3 linked regions of the Homo sapiens genome follow. The protein of the gene in region 3 interacts with the protein of the main gene of each other region in a biochemical or structural test. Each region holds a gene or a part of one and is shown on either strand. Other genes may lie near its edges. The genes, in order: CPAP, SASS6 and CEP135.

The links.
Region 1: the proteins of CEP135 (region 3) and CPAP form a complex in vitro, tested with the Homo sapiens proteins (one study listed by IntAct).
Region 2: the proteins of CEP135 (region 3) and SASS6 form a complex in vitro, tested with the Homo sapiens proteins (one study listed by IntAct).

What each region holds. Positions count from the first base shown.
Region 1 is NC_000013.11:24,905,770-24,912,882, reverse strand, and holds part of CPAP (centrosomal P4.1-associated protein), read left to right. Parts: coding exon 1-301; intron 302-813; coding exon 814-937; intron 938-2,796; coding exon 2,797-3,093; intron 3,094-4,756; coding exon 4,757-4,865; intron 4,866-5,689; coding exon 5,690-5,792; intron 5,793-5,922; coding exon 5,923-7,113. UniProt on the Homo sapiens protein: Plays an important role in cell division and centrosome function by participating in centriole duplication. Inhibits microtubule nucleation from the centrosome. Involved in the regulation of slow processive growth of centriolar microtubules.
Region 2 is NC_000001.11:100,115,889-100,123,001, reverse strand, and holds part of SASS6 (spindle assembly abnormal protein 6 homolog), read left to right. Parts: intron 1-517; coding exon 518-622; intron 623-1,452; coding exon 1,453-1,624; intron 1,625-2,542; coding exon 2,543-2,608; intron 2,609-3,864; coding exon 3,865-3,984; intron 3,985-7,113.
Region 3 is NC_000004.12:55,945,058-55,952,054, forward strand, and holds the start of CEP135 (centrosomal protein of 135 kDa), read left to right. Parts: upstream 1-3,887; 5' UTR 3,888-4,002; intron 4,003-6,997. UniProt on the Homo sapiens protein: Centrosomal microtubule-binding protein involved in centriole biogenesis. Acts as a scaffolding protein during early centriole biogenesis.

The sequences.
Region 1 (7,113 bases), on a different chromosome or scaffold from region 3:
GGACATTTCTACCAGCTTTCCTATTAAAGGCACACATTTTTCTGATAGCTTCAGCTTTATAAATGAAGAAGATTCACTTCTTGAAGAACAGAAGTTGGAGTCAAACAACCCTTACAAACCACAGTCAGATAAATCTGAAACCCATACAGCCTTTCCTTGCATTAAAAAGGGACCACAGGTAGCGGCATGTCACAGTGCTCCTGGACACCAGGAAGAAAACAAAAATGACTTCATCCCAGATCTTGCGAGTGAATTCAAAGAAGGGGCTTATAAAGACCCACTTTTTAAAAAACTTGAACAGGTACAATAGGATTTGGCCTACTGTGAATTTATGTCATTGCAGGTTTCTGTTTATGTAATAAAGTCATTTGTTCTAGGTCTTCTTGTTTTTTCCCCTTCACTCTGAAATCCTCAGAATACCAGATTTTGCCCTTTGTCTAATGTGAAACATTTAAGTGTGTTTAATTAGCACTTATAATAACTTTAAGTTGTTACCTCATTTGGCGAAAAGTAAGAAATGGTTGATCAAGTATTAGGGGAAAAAATTGGATGATGTACTGATGCCCATCCTATTTTAACAATCAAAGGATTTATATGACTGTTTCGGTTTCTTAGTTGAGATAGTTGATAAGATTTCCTTCGTAAGGATATGAGTTTTAGATTTTCGGTGGCTGATTTAGTTACCTAGGGGTCCCTGTCTAAAACTTCTTACCAGGAAAGATAGGAGGAGGGAGATGGGAGGAATTAAGGGAACGAGGTGTCCATGAAGAATTGTAAAGTTGATTTAATAAAGTTAATTTTGTATTTAAAAAGCTGAAAGAAGTACAACAGAAGAAGCAGGAACAATTGAAGAGGCAACAGTTGGAGCAACTACAGAGACTCATGGAAGAACAAGAGAAGCTGCTCACCATGGTGTCTGGGCAGTGCACACTTCCAGGTATGCTTTGCCTACACAGGGCCTCAGTATAATGCACATTTCTTACCTGTAGTTGTTTGACACGTTATTTCTATCGTTCCTGTATCATGTGTTGTGAACTCCAGTTTCTTTAAAGGCTAGCCCGATAAATGTGAAATGGTAGAGTTGTAATACAACTGGAACAAGAAGGAGCTGCCGCATTCTGGTGTGCGCATGCCCTGCTTTAAGGCATTGATGTTTATTCATTAAAAAAAAAAAAAAAATGAGCTGGGTGTGGTGGTCCATGCCTGCAGTCCTAGCTACTCTGGAGACTGAGGTGGGAGGATTGCTTGAGCCCAGGAATTTGAGGCTGCAGCAGTGAGCTATAATGGCACCACTGCATTCCAGCCGGGCAACAGAGTGAGACCCTGTCCCCCCAAAAAAGGTCCAATAGAAGAAAAGTCAGATTTGGCCTAGAGCTGCTGCTGGTATCCAACCCCTGCCTGATGAATGAAAACTGTTGGGTGTCATGAAGGTAAATACATGTAGGAGCCACTCTGTTCAGCTGAAGAACCATACCAAAGATATTTTCTGTGGTAGGAGATGACAGTATTCTGTTGTGTGACCCATCAGTTAACGGAAAGCGTCACGTGCCAATCAGGAAAGAAAACTGGAAATGTGACCTGGAGCAGTGGTTTGAAAGTTTCTTGACCACACTCTGTAGTAGTAAAAATGTTTAAAATCGTGACTCATAATGACAAAGCAATTTCATGTCATCAGTCCTTATTGGTGTTCCTGGCATGTAGTGAGGACATTTTCTGTCTTGTTTATTCTAGTTCTATATCATTTTAAAAAATGCTACATCCGATAATAAAATTATTATAGATTGTGTCCCATAGTTTGAAAAAAACTGAGGTTGGAGCCATGTGTTTGCTTCTTTTAAGAAATATACTTTACTGACCCAGGAAAGCACCTGTTCTGCTCAGAGATTATGCTGGGCATTGAGAATACAAGGAAAAAAAGACTTGGCAAGTGAGTGAGGCTGGGTGCAGGGGTCAGGTGGGGTGTGGTCATGAGAAATTGTAGCACATAAACAATGGTTTAGGGAATTTGGATGTTTATCTTAGAGAATATAGAAAACATTTGTGTGCCTTAAAATAGTTGAATGGCTTAGGGTTTCTTTATGGAATACATACAAAGAATAATCAAGATCACTTAAATAACAGCTGTGATACTTTTAAAGGTAGAACCGCACTATGACAGAATGACAGGGAAGCTGATTTCAAAGTTATTTACATAAGAACTAGCCTCATGCAGTCATGGAGCAGTTTGCTTTGGAGCAGTAGTTTTCAAATATTTTGGTCTCAGGATCCCTTAGGATTCTTAAATATTTGAGAGCCCCAAAGAACTTTTGTTATATGGGCTGTATTTACCAATAACTTACTGCATTAGAAATTTAAACAGGCTAGACATAGTGGCTCACACCTGTAATCCCAGTACTTTGGGAGGCCAAGGCCGGCAGATCACCTGAGGTCCGGAGTTCAAGACCAGCCTGGCCAACATGGTGAAACCCTATCTGTTCTAAAAATATAAAAAATTAGCTGGGCGTGGTGGCACACGCCTGTAATCCCAGCTACTCAGGAGGCTGAGGCACGAGAATCACTTGAACCCAAGAGGTGGAGGTTGCAGTGAGCTGAGATCGCACCACTGCACTTCAGCCTTGGCGACAGAGCGAGACTGTCTCAAACAATCAATGGTTTTGTTAAACACCATTTCCTAATAAAGGGAAAAAATACTGTTGTCACTGTGGAGAAGTCTTTGTGGGGTGGGGGTCACTACTGGGGATAAAAGAGAAAATGTTGAAGGAAGTCATCAGCTTTGTTGCATTTCTTAATTGTAAGGTTTGAGTTTACTGCCTGATGATCAGAGCCAGAAGCACAGGTCTCCAGGAAATACCACCACTGGAGAGAGAGCCACATGCTGCTTCCCATCATATGTCTACCCGGACCCAACCCAGGAAGAAACATACCCGTCCAACATTTTATCCCATGAGCAAAGCAACTTCTGTAGAACTGCTCATGGAGATTTTGTCTTAACTTCAAAACGTGCGTCTCCTAATTTATTTTCTGAGGCACAGTATCAAGAAGCACCTGTGGAAAAAAATAATTTAAAAGAAGAAAACCGTAACCATCCTACAGGTGAGCTACTTATGTTTCTCTCTTCTGTGCTTATAGTGTTACTAAGTTGTCCTAAGATGAAGCCTTTCCATGTTTTTTCTTTAAAAATTATTTTTTCAGAGATGGAGTGTTGCCGTGTTGCTCAGGCTGGACTCAATCTCCTGGGCACAAGTAATCTTCCCCCATCAGCCTCTCAGGTAGCTGGGACTATAGGCACGTGCTACCCTGCCAGCTCTTTCTGTATGGTTATTTTTTTTTGTCCCCTGTGGCGTGTTTTTTTTTTTTGAGACAGTCTCGCTCTGTCACCCAGGCTGGAGAGCAGTGGCACAATCTCAGCTCACTGCAACCTCTGCCTCTCGGGTTCAAGTGATTCTTGTGTCTCAGCCTCCCAAGTAGCTGGGATTACAGGTATGTGCCACCATGCCCAGATAATTTTGTGTATTTTTAGTAGAGATGGGGTTTCAACATGTTGGCCAGGCTAGTCTCAAACTCCTGGCCTCAAGTGATCTGCCTGCCTTGGCCTCCCAAAGTACTGGGATTGCAGATCTGAGCTACTGCACCCAACCATAATGCCTTGTTCCTAATTTAGAGTTAATTCATCGGTGTGGAAAGCTCAAATATGTTTTTCTTCTTTTTTATACAACATGTTTCCATAGCCTTTTATTTTGGAAAATTTCAAACATCTAGAAAAGTTGAAAGACCACTGCAGTTATTACTGATATACCCACCACCTAGATTGAGCAGTTAATATTTTGCTGTATTTACTTTGTCAGTGTATGTATGTGTATATATATCTTTTACATGTATATCCTTATCTTTACTTCTATATGTGTATAATTTGCTGAACCATTTCACTGAAAATAATATGCAGGTATCTTGTTACTTCATTCCAAATATTTCAGTATGCATCAAGCAAAAATTAGGACATTCATCTGTATAACCACAGTGCTATTATTGTATCTAAAGAAATTAATGATAATTCCTTAATATTCAAGTCCATTTTGGGATTCCCCCAGTTATCCCAAAATATCTTTTAAAGGTGCTTTTTTTTTAAAGGATCCAATCAAATTAATGCATATCCAGTCAAGTTCATGTATTACGTTTGATTCTTACAACTCTTTAGCCTTTTTAATCTCTAGAAAACCCCACACTTTTTTCCTCATGACATTAACCTTTTGAAGAATGTCAAGTGTCTTTATTTTATTTTATTTTATTTTTGAGACAGGGTCTTCCTCTGTCACTTAGGTTGGAGTCCAGTGGCACCATCTTGGCTTACTGCAACCTCTGCTTGCTCTCAGCCTCCCAGGTAGCTGGGATTACAGGCATGTGCCACCACGCCTGGCTAATTTTTTTTTTTTTTTTTTTTTTTTTTTTTGTAGAGACGGGGTTTCGCCACGTTGGCCAGGCTGGGCTCGAATTCCTGGCCTCAAGTGATTCTCCCGCCTTGGCCTCCCAAAGTGCTGGGATTACAGGTGTGAGCCACCACACCCGGCCTCAAGTGTCTTAATTGGAGTTTTGTAGTTTCTCTTAATTATATTAAAGAATTCCTTGAGTGTTGTAAAATCTGTGATATACATTACTTTTAATTAAAAAAATGTTTTAGCATAGTAACTTGTAGAATTCTCATGTTTTAAGACATTAATATGCTTTTCTTGAGCTAAATTGTTCTTAATTTTTATCTCAGGAGAAAGTATCTTATGTTGGGAGAAAGTGACAGAACAGATTCAGGAAGCAAATGATAAGAACTTACAAAAACATGATGATTCCTCAGAAGTGGCTAATATTGAAGAAAGGTATTGTTCGTGTTGAAAGTGAGAAATGTGACTATTTAGTACAATAGCTAGCCTTTATTATTGAACACTTTCTTTGTTTGAAAGATCTATATTTTTCTGGTTTTTGCTTGACTATGCTTTTAAGGTTAAAGATACAACCTATTATGTACTGTCAACAACAAAAGAGGTTGAGGAGATATGTCAAGCTGCCTTGACATTGTATTCTCGAAGCTTTTTCACTTAAGAGAAACATCTGGATAAAATCAATTTTCTCTCAAATAGTTAAATCCTATTTTTGGAGAAGGGAAAAATTAAGTATTGACATCTCCCATTTGGTGTCACTTATCAATTATAATTGCATTATCAGTTTAGTTACAGAATTTTAAAATATGGCAAAGATTAAGTATTTTATATTTTAAGTAAGTTGATTATTTTAAAAATTTATTTCAAAATTTTTAATATAATATGGACAAAATGACTTTTCTGATTATTGTTCTCACATTAAGGGCCTTTCTTAATTAAAAAAATGCATATTTAGTGATCTATTTTTGAAATACATTTTAAAGTTATTTGATGAATATGTTACTCCATGTGTTAATCTGTGGTCGATAGATGGACTTCAGAAGGGTTCTTAGGACTCCAAAGTCATGTGAAGAGTGTTGTATGTTTCTTTATTTTAAGGTGTGGAGAGGGATTGTGGCTTTTGTTAGGTTCTCAAAGGGAGGCACTGATTTTGGGAAAAGTTAGTTCTCCATGTTGTCAAGGGTTTCTATACCAGGCACACTAAGTGTAAAATATTCACACATTATGATTTGCATGTTAAATAACTTTCTGTTTCTAATTAGGCCCATTAAAGCTGCTATTGGAGAAAGGAAACAGACCTTTGAAGATTACTTAGAAGAACAAATTCAGTTGGAAGAGCAAGAACTGAAGCAAAAACAGCTGAAGGTCAGCAATTGTGCTCTTCTGATTAAATCATTCTAAGGCTTTAGAGATTTATCTATAATTTGCCTTAAAAATAACTTTGAGATCACTTGGATATACCAAAATTAATTCAAATATTATTCTTTTATTTTAGGAAGCAGAAGGACCATTGCCAATCAAAGCAAAACCAAAACAACCATTTTTAAAACGAGGAGAAGGTTTAGCTAGATTTACTAATGCCAAATCTAAGTTTCAAAAAGGCAAAGAAAGTAAACTAGTGACTAACCAGAGCACTTCCGAGGACCAGCCGCTGTTTAAAATGGATAGACAGCAACTCCAGCGGAAAACCGCTCTTAAAAATAAAGAGCTGTGTGCAGACAACCCTATCCTTAAAAAGGACAGTAAAGCTAGAACCAAGAGTGGTTCTGTCACCCTCAGTCAGAAGCCGAAAATGCTGAAGTGTAGTAACAGGAAAAGTCTTTCTCCGTCAGGATTGAAAATACAGACGGGGAAGAAATGTGATGGGCAGTTTAGAGACCAGATCAAATTTGAAAACAAAGTCACATCTAATAATAAAGAAAATGTAACTGAGTGTCCAAAACCTTGCGATACTGGCTGCACAGGGTGGAATAAGACACAAGGTAAAGACAGACTTCCTCTTTCAACAGGGCCGGCCAGCCGGCTGGCTGCTAAGAGCCCCATAAGGGAGACCATGAAAGAGTCTGAATCTTCTCTTGACGTTTCTCTTCAGAAAAAGTTAGAGACTTGGGAACGAGAAAAGGAAAAGGAAAATTTGGAATTAGATGAATTTTTGTTTTTAGAACAAGCTGCTGATGAAATATCATTTTCTAGTAATTCCTCATTTGTACTGAAAATCTTAGAAAGGGATCAACAGATCTGCAAAGGTCACCGGATGTCTTCCACCCCTGTCAAAGCTGTGCCACAGAAGACAAATCCGGCAGATCCCATTAGTCATTGTAACCGCAGTGAGGATTTGGACCACACTGCACGTGAGAAGGAGAGTGAGTGTGAAGTCGCACCCAAACAACTTCATTCATTGTCCTCAGCTGATGAATTGAGGGAACAGCCTTGTAAAATCAGGAAAGCCGTCCAAAAGAGCACTTCTGAAAATCAGACTGAATGGAATGCACGTGACGATGAAGGTGTTCCAAATAGTGACAGTAGCACTGACTCTGAGGAACAGCTTGATGTTACCATAAAACCATCGACTGAGGATAGAGAGAGGGGCATCAGCAGCAGAGAGGATAGCCCACAAGTCTGTGATGATAAGGGGCCTTTTAAGGACACCAGGACCCAAGAAGATAAAAGGAGAGATGTTGATCTG
Region 2 (7,113 bases), on a different chromosome or scaffold from region 3:
GAAGCTTTTGCTGAATTTATTGATTTTTTTTCCCATTGAATACGTTCTATAAAAATCAGAGTTCCTTAGCTTAGTTCTTGATTATAACAAGCGTTAGTAAATTTGAAAAAAGAATCCTTCAGGATGCTAATTATAATTAAAGATAGTAATTGGCCAGGCACGGTGGCTCACGCCTGTAATCCCAGCACTTTGGGCGGCCGAAGAGGGCGGATCATGAGGTCAGAAGTTCGAGACTAGTCTGACCAACATGGTGAAACCCTGTCTTAACTAAAAATACAAAAATTAGCCAGGTATGGTGGCATGTGCCTGTAATCCCAGCTACTCAGGAGGCTGAGGAAGGAGAATCTCTTGAACCTGGGAGGCAGAGGTTGCAGTGAGCCAAGATTGCACCACTGCACTCCAGCCTGGGTGATGGAGTGAGCCTCTATCTCAAAAAAAAAAAAAAAAAAAAAGGCACCAAAACAAAACAAAGTTAATTAAAATTTTTAAAAAATTTCTTTTCCTTTCTTCTGTATAGTTTAAAATTCCAGCAAGGTCTTCTGGTAGACTTCTTAGCTTTCCCACAAAAATTTATAGATCTCCTTCAGCAATGTACTCAAGAACATGCCAAAGAAATTCCAAGGTAAGTTGCATGAGAATGCTACATTATTAAATTTAATTCAAGACAGACTCTTCTTTGAAACACAAGTTGATGGCAAAATCTTTTCCGTTTATTATGACTATCCCTGTTTATTTTTAGAACTGGGGTTAGGCCTCCATTAAATCTCAGACTTTAAGGCATCTTGATTAAAATCAGAAATATTTCTTAATTTTCATGTCTTGACAAAGGCACTAAAGTCATCCGAAATATTTAGCAGCATCAAATATTTGGTTTTATAATGATATTGGAAAAAGGGAAGACTAAGATTGTATGTGTGTATGGTGCTAACGCCTGATTCTTTTACTGTAAAGTTCACCATCAACCTTTTATTTATTGGTTTTATCAGTTGACGATTGTTGTTGAATCAGTTATTTCATTAGGAAGAACAAAATGATGCTTCTGTATAATTTTTTCTATATTAAGTATAATTCTTCTATAAAGAAGAACTTTTCCTCAGCAATTAGGGCTATTTGATTACTCAGAAAATTCATAAAGGATAAATGCTTAATTCTTGCATTTAAATTGTCAATTTTTAGAGTAAAGAGCTGGTAGTCTACTTTTGTGGCACTCAGTGAATTTTTGTTTCTAGTTTTTGCTTTTTCTCTCATTTGTTTCTCATGAACTCATGGACTTTTATGTAGTCACTGTGTTTCAGTCAATCTTTTCTTTTTTTTGCCCAATTTATCTTTTACCATTGGGAGTCCTCAATGTGCTCCCTTTCCTGAGCTTTCTTAAGTAGAGAAGCTTCTGATTCAGTGAGAGATTTTCACTATCTCTTAAGTGTGTTATAATGTAACATTTTCTTTTCAAAGGTTTTTGCTACAGTTAGTTTCTCCAGCAGCTATTTTGGATAACTCACCTGCATTTTTAAATGTGGTAGAGACAAATCCTTTTAAGCATCTTACACACCTCTCACTAAAACTTTTACCTGGAAATGATGTGGAGATAAAGAAATTTCTCGCAGGCTGTTTGAAATGTAGCAAGGTAAGATTTAAATTTAAGTTATTCTTTTAACAAAATAAGTATCAATGGTCTTTGATAAATTATTGAAGAGATACATTGCCATAAGTTTTTGTTTTCTAAATAAAGTTTTATGAAATATAACGAATTTATTTTACTGTTTCTTATTTAGTCAAGGTATAGTCGGGATGGATCTGGACCAGGAATTGAGAAGCTTAGGTCTCAGGGTTTTTACCAATCGTGTGATTTTGGACAGGTCACTTAAACTCTTCTGTCATGGTTTCATCAACTGGTAGACATGTATGGAAATAGCTACCCTATCTAGCCCATCTTTTTTTTTTTTTTTTTTTTTGAGACGGAGTCTCGCTCTGTCGCCCAGGCTGGAGTGCAGTGGCGGGATCTCGGCTCACTGCAAGCTCCGCCTCCCGGGTTCACGCCATTCTCCTGCCTCAGCCTCCCAACTAGCTGGGACTACAGGCGCCCGCCACTACGCCCGGCTAATTTTTTGTATTTTTAGTAGAGACGGGGTTTCACCGTTTTAGCCAGGATGGTCTCAATCTCCTGACCTCGTGATCCGCCCGCCTCGGCCTCCCAAAGTGCTGGGACTACAGGCGTGAGCCACCGCGCCCGGCCCTAGCCCATCTTTAATGAGATAAGATATATGGAAATGTCTTGAAAATTATAAAGTGCTATATGGCACAAGGAAACAACATAGGGATGCTGCTTGAGTTTTTAGAGTCTTTCTAGTCAAATGCTATAGATCAGTGCATGTCAAACTTTAAATTATCTGGGGATCTTGTTAAAATGATTTAGATTTGAGATGGAGCCTAAGAATCTGCATTTCTAACAGGCTTCCAGGATGATGCTGATGCTATACTTTGAGTAGCATGGCTATAGATGATTACATTGTAAACTGTGTAATTTTATTATTTTTATGAATAGGAAGAAAAATTATCATTGATGCAATCACTAGATGATGCTACTAAGCAACTGGACTTTACACGAAAGGTAATTCAAATTTCATTTTGTCTTTGTAAGTCATCCAGACATTGGCACTGAATTGCTTCCTTGACTCAGTTCCAAGCTTTTATGTATTTTCTTTCAAAGCATGCTTCCGTTGAATTTCCATTCCTCTTTGCCACCCTTCAACTACCACTTAATTATCTTAATTTGATACTTTCTCTTGTACATACTTGATTTTACACAAACATTTCTGTATCCCCAATATATAACATGTTCCCTCGAGTCTTCATTAAATAAGATATGTATGTTTCTGTCATATATTAGTTCTCCACTCCCCACTTGTTCGCCTCATTCCTCTGGCCTAAATGGCTTTTCAGTTCCTATGCTCTAAACCTTTCCCTTTCTTTGCTATGTTTAGAATTAATTCCTCTGATAGGCTTAGCATCATTTCAGTCATAGCTACAACATTTCTGCCCTAGTTCATGAAATTGAAGGCCAGAGTATCTGTTTTAGCTTGTTCTTGCTTTGCTTTAAAGAACTATCTGAAGCTGGGTAATTTATAAAGAAAAGAGATTTAATTGGTTCATTGTTCTGTAGGCTGTACAAGCATGGCACCAACATCTGCTTGGCTTCTAGTGGGGACCTGAGGAAGTTTACAGTCATGGCTGAAGGCAAAGGGGAGCAGGAGTGTCACATGGTGAGGGTGGGAGGAAGGAGGTACCACATGCTTTTAAACATCCAGATCTCATATGAACTAACTGAATGAGAACTTGCTTAACACCAAGGGAATGGCACTAAACCATTCCCATGATCCAATCACCTACCACAGGCCCTGCCTCCTCTGTTGGGGATTACATTTGAACATGAGACTTGGAGGGGACAGACATCCTAACTATATCGGTATCTGATAATCTGCATGGCCTCATGCAGAAAATACCCCTGCACAATGTGGCCCACAGGGCCATGTTACTGGGTTTTATATGTAAGTGAACTATTCCTTATAATCGACTTGCTTCCCCTTACCCCTCTTTATTGGGTGGTAAAGAGCCAGATTTAATTAAAAGCTTTAATTAAAAGATAGTTAATCTTGACCTGTGGGCCGTTTTGGGTCTAAGATTGTTCTTATTCTAATGTTGATTTCCTAAAATTAAAAAATTTTGTGTAGGAAAAGGCTTTGAACATGTCCTGAAAAGCTATAATTTTGTTTTCTTTAATATCCTTGTAAATATTGCTATATTCTAATCAAAATTATTACATATTAAGGAGCCTATCTTAATATTTTGTGTTAAACTCTAATGTAGACATTAGCAGAAAAAAAACAAGAATTAGATAAGTTACGGAATGAATGGGCGTCACATACAGCAGCCTTGACAAACAAGCATTCTCAGGAACTGACAAATGAAAAGGAAAAAGCCTTGCAGGTAAGAACATTAAAGGAAACTGAAAAAATATCTTTTATTGCTGTTAGTCATTTTGTTAATTTTAAAAGTAATATATGCTTGCTTTAAATTTTCCAAACGTTACAGAAGTATATAAAATAAAAATAAAAATCCTCTCTTTCAAAGTCTTACTACCTAGAGATAATCTATAAACATTTTGATGTATTTTTTTCAGACTTTTCTCTACGTATATGTAAATAATATGTAATTTATAAATATTTGTTTATAAACTTATAACTCTGTAAATTATGTCATTTATATATGTACCCATATAATGGGTTTTTGGTTTTGTTCTATACTAATGGGGTCTTATTGGATATATTGATTGTAACTTTCTTCGCTTAATGTGATACCATTCTGTATCAGTTAAGATATTCCTTTTTAGTGACTGCAGAGTATTCATTTTTTGGGTTTAACTTAAATTATTTAACTACTTGCCTAAATGGTGGTCATTTAAATGCTTCGAAGTTTTGGTTATTTTAAGCAATACTGCAAGAAGCACTCTTAGTTTCTAGAAGTGAAACTGCAACATATCTGTATAAAATATTGATGGATACTGCAAATTTGCCACCCAAAAAGACTAAACCAAATGGAATCCCAAAGATAAGGTAGTGTATAAGGATACTTATTTCCCCATATTCTTGACATTGTTTTTAACCTTCTTAATTCTTCTTTTTTTTTTTTGAGACAAAGTTTTGCTTTTGTTGCCCAGGCTGGAGTGCGGTGGCACAATCTCGGCTCACTGTAACCTCTGCCTCCCGGGTTCAAGCAATTCTCCTGCCTCAGCCTCCCAAGTAGCTGGGATTACAGGCATGTGCCACCATGCCCAGCTAATTTTGTATTTTTAGTAGAGATGGGGTTTCTCCATGTCGGTCAGGCTGGTCTTGAACTCCCAACCTTAGGTGATCTGCCTTGGCCTCCCAAAGTGCTGGGATTACAGGCATGAGCCACTGTGCCCTGCCACGTTCTTAATTCTTAATATATGCCACCTGATCTTAAGGTAGTACTAGTTTTATTTTATATTTCTTGTATTTTTTGTGAAGATAAGCATCTTTTAATACAACTTTTTATCATTTTTATTTCTTCTATGGATTATTTTTTATTTTCTTTTCATCCCTTTTTCTGTGTGGTTATTTTTTTTTTTTCACTGTGCCCTGCCACCTTCTTAATTCTTAATATTTGCCACCTGATCTTAGTACTAGTTTTAGTTTATATTTCTTATATGTTTTGTGAAGATAAGCATCTTTTAATATAACTTTTTATCATTTCATTTCTTCTGTGGATTATTTTTTATTGTCTTTTCATCCCTTTTTCTGTGTGGTTGTTTTTTTTTTCATTTTTTATTTTTAGATGGAGTCTCGCTCTGTCGCTCAGACTGGAGTGCAGTGGCACTATCTCGGCTCACTGCAACCTCTGTCTCCTGGGTTCAAGCAATTCTCCTGCCTCAGCCTCCTAAGTAATTGGGATTACAGGCGCATGCCACCACCATGCCTGGCTAATTTTAGTATTTTTAGTAGAGATGAGTTTAACCCTGTTGGTCAGGCTGGTCTTGAACTCCTGACCTCGTGGTCCACCCACCTTGGCCTCCCAAAGTGCTGGGATTACAGGCATGAGCCACCATGCCCAGCTGTGGTTGTTATTTTCTACTGCTTTGTAGTATGAATTCCTTTTCTACCTTTCGTACTATAGCTTCTTTTTTTTTTTTTTTGAGACAGAATTTCGCTCTTGTTGCCCAGGCTGGAGTGCAATGGCATGATTTGGCTCATTGCAACCTTTGCCTCCCAGGTTCAAGCAATTCTCCTACCTCAGCCTCCCAAGTAGCTGGAATTACACATGTGCCACCATGCCCGGCTAAATTTTGTATTTTTAGTGAAGACGGGGTTTCACCATGTTGGCCAGGATGGTCTCGAACTCCTGACCTTAGGTGATCTGCCCTCCTCAGCCTCCCAAAGTGCTAGGATTACAGGCGTGAGCCACTGTGCCCAGCCTTATAGCTTCTTTAATATTACATTTTATTGTTGTTTTTATGTACTTTACTAGATGCTTGCTCTTAAGAGTACAGCTTGATGATTTTTTTAAATGTGTAACTTTCACCCAAATTAAGATAAAGAAATTGGACCACCCCTCTAGGTTCCCTTGTATGGCTTCCTAGTCCTAACAGTAGTCCATAGGAGGTTATCATACTTCTGACTTACATCATCATTCATTAGTTTTGCCAATTCTTGAACTTTGTGTAAATGGAATCATATATGTTTGCATATGTCTTTCTTCACTCAGCATAATATTTCTGAAATTCACCTATTTTCTATTGTTTCCTTTTATTGTTATATGAATCTGCCATAATTTATTTTCCTATTGGTAGGCATTTGAGTTGTTTCTGGTATTTTGCTATTATTAGTTAAACTGCTATTAACATTCTTGTACTTATCTTTTTGTGGACACATGCACTCATTTTTCTTGGATATTTATCTATTATTGGAATGGCTAGGTTGTAGTATATATAGGCATATGTTTAGCTTTGGCAGAAACTACCAGTTTCCCAAAGTAGGTAGGTATACCGGTTTACATTGCCATTCTATGGGTATGTAATACTATCTGATAATAATGAACACTTCTTCATATACATATTTATCACTTGAATATTCTCTTTTCAAGTGCCCATTCAAGTTGTTAGCATGTTTAATTTGCCTATTATTAGTATTATTATAGATTTGTAGGAATTTGTATATTCTAGACATGAGTCCTTTGTCAGATGTATGCATTGTGAATATTTTCATTGTCTATAGCTTGCCTTTTCACTTTTTATTGGTATAAATTAAGGATATACACCTTATCTATCATGTACATTATAAACATTTCTCCCAGCCTGTCATTTGCCAGCATCTTTTGCCGTATATAGTTTTTTTAATTTGAATGTCATCAAATCTGTCAGTCATTGCCTTTATGGCTTAAGATTTCATTTCACATTTGGAAAGTGTTTCCCACCCGAGGACTATGAAAAAATTCTCCTATATTCTAATATTTGTTTAATTTTCTTGTTATATTTAGCTTTTTAATCTACTTGGAATATAATTTTGTGGAGTATAATATAAGGTAGAATTTTTTTGACAT
Region 3 (6,997 bases):
GTGTTCCTAAGCTAGTATGGGGAGGGATCGCTAGGACCCGTGACTCTTGTCCTTCTTTTGAAGCTTCAAGTGCACTTGGACCTGGATTATAGGAAGGTGGCTATTGTTCACCCTGACACATATGTACCCCTTGCAAGAGGGGGTTATCTACAGTATTCGGCTCAGTTTTAGGAGTTTCTTTCTGTGGAGAAGTGCTGGGAGCTTTGAAAATGGTAGGCTTTTGGTATAGGGCCATGAAGGCTTGCACATATGGTATTTCTGACCATTTGCCTTGTCTCTTACAAAATAGTTCTAATTGGAGGATGGTGTCATAATTGAGACTTCCATTGACTGGCCATTGCTCTTGACTCCCTAGCTGAAATTGAGGCCAAAAGGTGTTACAATAAAATATTAGGCATTTCTTTCACAGGTTTTCAGGGTCAAATTGATTCCAATGATTGAAGATGCAGCCAAGAGGGGAGTCAGATAGGACTGAAGGAATGTTTCCCAACACTAATCTGTGGAAAAGAAGAAGGGAGTTGTCAGGCCTCTGAGCCCAAGCCAAGCCATTGAATCCCCTGTGACTTGCACATATATGCCCAGATGGCCCAAAGTAACTGAAGAATCACAAAAGAAGTGAAAATACCCTGCCCCGCCTTAACTGATGACATTCCACCACAAAAGAAGTGAAAATGGCCAGTCCTTGTCTTAAGTGATGACATTACCTTGTGAAAGTCCTTTTCCTGGCTCATCCTGGCTCAAAAAGCTCCCCCACTGAGCACCTTGCGACCCCCACTCCTGCCCACCACAGAATAACCCCTTTGACTGTAATTTTCCTTTACCTACCCAAATCCTATAAAACTGCCCCACCCCTATCTCCTTTCGCTGACTCTCTTTTCAGACTCAGCCTGCCTGCACCCAGGTGAAATAAACAGCCTTATTGCTCACACAAAACCTGTTTGGTGGTCTCTTCACATGGACGCGCATGAAAGGAGTCTCATAGGTTCATGAGTTTACATCTAGAGTCTCCCTTAAGGGTGTCCCCTATTGAAGGATCTGGACTGTAATTTTGGTCCATTTGGGCATCCCCCAAATGGACCTGTCCTCTGAGTGCCAGACGTCTCTAGCCATAGTGGGCACCAGTGCCATTTGAAGAAGGATCCTGCCATAATTGGTGACCTATGATAAGTTTCCCTTTAGTTCCTGGGTGTAACCTTTGGCTTCTAGTATCCCTGTAGCTGGCCAAAAGAGTTTCTTCCCAAATGGTTTCCTTAATTATTGTAGTAACTCTAGTTTGAAGGGCAAGGAATTGCAGACTGCCTAGTTTAAATTTGTTATTAGAGACTGGCCTCTCAATAAGATAGTAGAGTGCCCTCTGACTATATGAGATAAACCAGGCACAGTAATTTCCCCATGGATCCACTGTGCAATTTATGCAATGATCCGAGAGTCTCCACCAGGAGTTTTCTTTTAGCACCAGATGTACTAAACTAAAACAATCTAGATCTGATCCCTCACAGAAGAAGCAGGGTACTCTCATTATCCAGGTGGTTGGCCCTAATCTTCAGGCTGATGCTAATCCTTGGGCTCCCCACAGTCAGTTACCTGTTGTCCTGGCCCTTTGGGTTGGGGGGAGATCTCTAATTGGTCAAAACATGATATCCCAACACAAATGAAGAAAAGAAAAAAAAAATAAAACAAGCAGCAAGGCTGGGCACGGTGGCTGGCTGGGCATGGTGGCTCATGCCTGTAATACCAGGACTTCGGGAGGCCGAGGTGGGCGGATCACCTGAGGTCAGGAGTTCGAGACCACCCTGGCCAACATGGTGAAACTCTGTCTCTACTAAAAATACAAAAATTAGCCGGGCATGGTGGTGGGTGCCTGTAATCCCAGCTACTCAGGAGGCTGAGGCAGGAGAATTGCTTGATCCCGGGAGGTGAAGGTTGCAGTGAGCCGAGATCATGCCACTGCACTCCAGCCTGGGTGACAGAGCAAGACTCCATCTCAAAACAAAAACAAAAACAAAAACAAAAACAAAAACAAAAAAACAAGCAGCAAATAATGTAATAATTATAGCCACACAAACATGCACCTCACTGTTGCAGGGATTGATCTTGTACCCCGTGGGACCCATCTGTTCCATTCCCCAATCAGGTTATCCTGTCACGTTGAGGCAGGAATTTAAAGAAAGTTTTGTACTGCATTTACTCACTCTAAGGATAGTAACAAGCAAGGCTATAGGAAGGTCATGGTGACCTAGTCTAAGAAGCCAGGAATGAGCTCCAAACACCCCTGAGCAATGGTTAAGAAAAACAAATTCCTTTACTGTTTCTCTTTCCTTAGACCATTAATTATGATTATTTTTGCCTATGTTTAGAAAGATTTGTAGGTTCCTGTTTTTCTTTTGACGCAGCTGCAAGGCCACCAGCTAAGCAAAGCCAAAAGTTATGCAAATTTCAGCAGTTATGCTATAGATTACAAAACCTGTCACTGTGTGATTTACTGCCTTGGTTCTGCTTTTTTAATTTAGCCTATATAAGCCAAGCTCTGTCTTTGTTCAGGGCTCAGCTTTTTGGATGCAAATCCACGGAGCCAGTGCACACCTTAATAAAATCCTCCTGCTCCACCCATTGGTCTTTCTGGTCCTCTGCTTTCCCGCAACAATGGGAGTCTTCAAGCGGCCAGTGCCTTTTTCGTTCTTAACTGCCCAATCCGTGCCAGCAGAAGGCAGCTTTAAACCAAAGTGAAAGAGCTGAAGCAAAAAAGAAAGAAAATAAAAAGTCCCAGTTCTTCTGGGCTTACCTCCTGGCTGGCTCACCAAAATATGTTACCAGATTGGAAGTTGGGAGTTCCAGGTTCTTGGTGTTATGAACAAAGAATTGGATGAGACACACAAATAACCACCCCACAAGATTTATTAAGCAAAGAATATACCAGAGAGAGGAACGGGCTTATCTTCAAGTGGTGTCAGCCCTGGATTAATATAGCCTTTGTTCTTTTATACCCACTTCCTACACTTCTTTAACTCTAGGGAGGGGATTTCCTATAATTGTCATATCTGTTTTCTTGTTTTTTCTCTCTTAGTGCGCCTGCGTGAGCTTGCCATAATTTTAAGTGTATGTATGATAGGCATTCCATAGGTATGAGCTGGTCAGTCTTCTGACTTCCTTCCCTATTCTGCTGCCTCAGAAGGCCTATTTGGGAGAAAAGTAAACAGGAAAGAATGAAACTCCCTCTGACTGTCTGGGAAATTTTCAGGGGAGAAATGGAATTCTAGGATTTTACTATGTGTTTTCCATCTGTGAGTGGACTATAACGGTTTATTTCAATTTAATTCCACTCACAAATGTTTTGCTGAGTAGAATAGTCTCTGACTCAAGGAATTCACATTTGGGGGCGGCAGAGAGAGACGGATCAACAAATGATTGTATTTTGATGGATGAATTCTATGGTTCTACAGAGAGCCTGCGGGAGATACTATTGTGGGATAATTAATTGCATTGGGTGGTTGTCAGGGAAAGTTGCAGAGACAACGTGATATCTGCGTTTGGGGATTACGTGGTGAGCAGGCGTTCACCTTGCAGGTGAAGGCTACTCCGCTGCAGGGACCGGTACTGGGGCGGCGTTTGTTCCCCGCACGCAGTAGGTGATCCACACCTCCCGCCGACAGGAGGAAGAGGATGCCAGCTCAGGCACCAGCTGAGGTTTGGCATTTGCTGGCCGCGGGCGCCGACCTCCAGGGGGCGCCGTGGCCTCGCGCTGTCCGGGCCGTTGCATTTCCGGGCACTGGGGCTCCGCCATCGTCGCCAAGCGCGTCCCCGCCGCGAGCCGCTAATCGTCCGCCGCTCCCGTTACCGGGGCAACCGCGGCGCCTCCTCCGTGTCGGCCCCGATCGTCCCTCCGCGCCATTTTCAAACTGCTCTAGCGCCGGAGCCCGTGCCTGGACGGAAGGAGCTAGTGGGGGACTCGAGGCCTGAGGGCAATGCGGCTGGAGGCGGAGGCAACGGCGGCTGGAGCTGCCGGTGAGTCCGGATGTGGGAGCCAGAGGGCCAGCTGCGGCGGTGGTGGCGCCTTCGCCTTCTGGGCGGTACCCGCGGGCCGGGCTCGGGCACTGCCGGGAGGCCGCGCGGCCGCGGGAGGAAGTGAGGCCAGGCCGGGTCAGACCGGGCGGGGAGGGGCGCGGGGACTCTTCCCACCCACCCCGCTCCCACACCCCCTTCCCGTCAACACCCGACGGTAAAGTTGCAAACCGGAGATTGGGTGGAGGAGAGCTTGGGCCGACTCGTCAAGGAGCGTCTGTGTGGGCCGTGCAGACAGGCTTGCTGTTGACCAATGGATAGATTTAAACATTAAAATGCCTTCTCAGTGTAGCAGTCATCCATGCTCTTTGTAACAAAAATGTCGCAAAGCGTAGGACGACAGCCTTTAATTAACCTTTGCCCAGCTCCTTTGAAGCCTCTCCACTGCTTTCCAGCCTTTACTACTTTGAGTTCAATAAGAAAGGACTCTGAGATAACCACAGCTAACGGGTTTCTTTGTTGTCGTTTGGGGTTTCTTGTTTATCTTCTTAAGCCCTGTGCACACATACATACAGCATTAAATGTACTGGTTTTGAGACGCCAACCCCCAGAGTTAAGTAGATGGATACTTCTACACATATATGTATGGGGGACCCCCAAACCTAACCTTTTATGTTGCTTTGCTAGAAACTTAGAGTATAGCCACCATATTTGGATGGGGGTTATGGGGAAAGACAACAGTTCATGGGTGGGGACGGCCTAACATGTTTCTATCTGGGAGGATTTTAATCCGTCCTGTGTATTGAGGCCCTGGCCATGATTTATTGATTCATATTCATTCTCATTCTCTCCCCTCCAAAGCAGGATGTGAGGAGGTATTATCTCTGGGTAACTGGAGTTGGTAGCAAAGAGGGGAAATGTTTTGAGTGGTGCACCGCCTGTAAGTTTACACCCTGCTAGTAATACACCTGGATTTGTCAGGTGTATTTCTGATGTCTGCAGGAATTTCCCTAAAAACCCTGCATCACTTAGGTGTCTCTTGTGGAAAGAACCTAGGAAATCTATGAGGAAGCCATTCAAAAAAAGTTAACAAGAGCAAAGAGAAAGATATACAGAAAGGAGTGACCAAGGAGAGACTCAGGAGACCTGGTCTCTGATGACTGCCCACCTACTTTGTGGCCCCGTGGTTTTGGAAGAGTTACTTTCTTGAGGCAGCCTTTCCTCATGTTTAAGTAGGGATAATATCATTGGTCTTTCTCCCTCACAGGGTAGCTGTGAGGATCGACTTTTACATGTATGCTCATGCATGTAATGCATTTTTTATATATTGTGAAGAACAACAGATGTAAAACAAAATTTTTATTTGGCTTAGAAATACGAGTACCATGACTACAGTTAGTTAGCAAAGGTTAGAAAAGAGCAGAGTTTCTAAAGAAATGATCTTTGGGCTGAGCATATTGGCTCACACCTGTAAACCTAGCACTTTGGGAGGTAGAGGTGGGAGAATACCTTGAGCTCAGGAGTTGGAGACCAGCCTGGGCCACATAGCAAGACCCTGTCTCTAAAAAAGGTAACAATTAAAATAAAAAAAAAAAAGAAATGCTCTTTGGATAACTCCATTTTAGGGCAGATTGATAGGAATATATTCATAAATATTTAAAAAGACAAAGATAAAAACTTGAACAGAGGTACTTATGTGTGTCTTTTTTTTTAATTGAAGTGAAATTTACATGATGAAATGCATAGAGTTTAAGTGTACTATTTGAAAAGTAAATTCTCTAAATGTATACACTTGTGTAACCACTACCCCAATCAATGTAATATTTTCATTACCCTAAAAAGTTGTGTCTTAACTCTTAACGGGCAATCTGCAGCCCGCCTCACCTCCCCAGACAACTCTTGTTTTAATTTCTGGCCCCATAGTTTTAATTTTACTTGTTCATCAACTTCATGTAAATGGAGTCATACAGTATTTGTCTGGTTTCTTTTGCTCAAATAATGTTTTTGAGATTCATCCATGCTGTTGATGTGTATCAGTAGTTCCTTTTATCCCTTAGTATTGCACTGTATAAATATATCATACTTTACCCCTTCTGCTGTTGATGGGGGTTTAGGTTGTTTCCAGTTTGGGGCTACTATGAGTAAAGCTGTGAACATTCTTGTAGAGTATTTTTGTGAATATTTTTTATTTCTATAAATACCTGGGAATAAAATCACAGGGTTATAGTCCAGAAGTATGTTTAACTTTATAAAAAAACTGCCAGACTTTTTCCAAAGTGATTTTACATTCCTGTCAGCAATGTGTGAAGATTCCAGTTGCTCCAGATCTTTGTCGACATTTGCTATTGTCGGTCCTTGTAATTTTAGTCATTCTAGTTTGGGAGAAAATGTACCTTGTTGTTTTAATTTGTATTTCCATGTTGACTACTGTTGAGCACCATTTCATATCATCATTCCCATTCAGACACCTATGCGAGGTGTCTGTTCGAATCTTTAGCGCAACTAAATTACAGTTTTAGCCCAAATTAATGTTCTTATTGGGATGTTTGTCTTATTATTGAGTTGTAAGAATTCCTTTTATATTCCCTATACAAATCCTTTGTCAGATATTGTGAATATTTTCTCCCACTCTTTGGTTTGCCTTCTCTATTTTAATTGAGTATTTTGATGAGCAGACATTTTAAATTTTGATGAAGTCCAATTTATCAAATTTATCTTTTATGTTTAGTGCTTTTAAAAGAGGCCTCTCTGAGAAGTCTCTGCCTACTTCAGGCTTAGGAAAAATCTTTGTTTTCTCCTAGAAGCTTTAGGATTTTAACTTTTACATTTAGTTGTATGAGGAAGTATTTATTTTAATGCAGTAACAGGAATATCATAAGCATTGGCTTTAAATCTGAATTTTCCAGAAGGCTACCTACCTGAAGAAAAACAAAAAATAATTGCTTCATATTAAAATAATTTTTTCTTCTTATTGTGAAACAACAATCATAGCTATAAT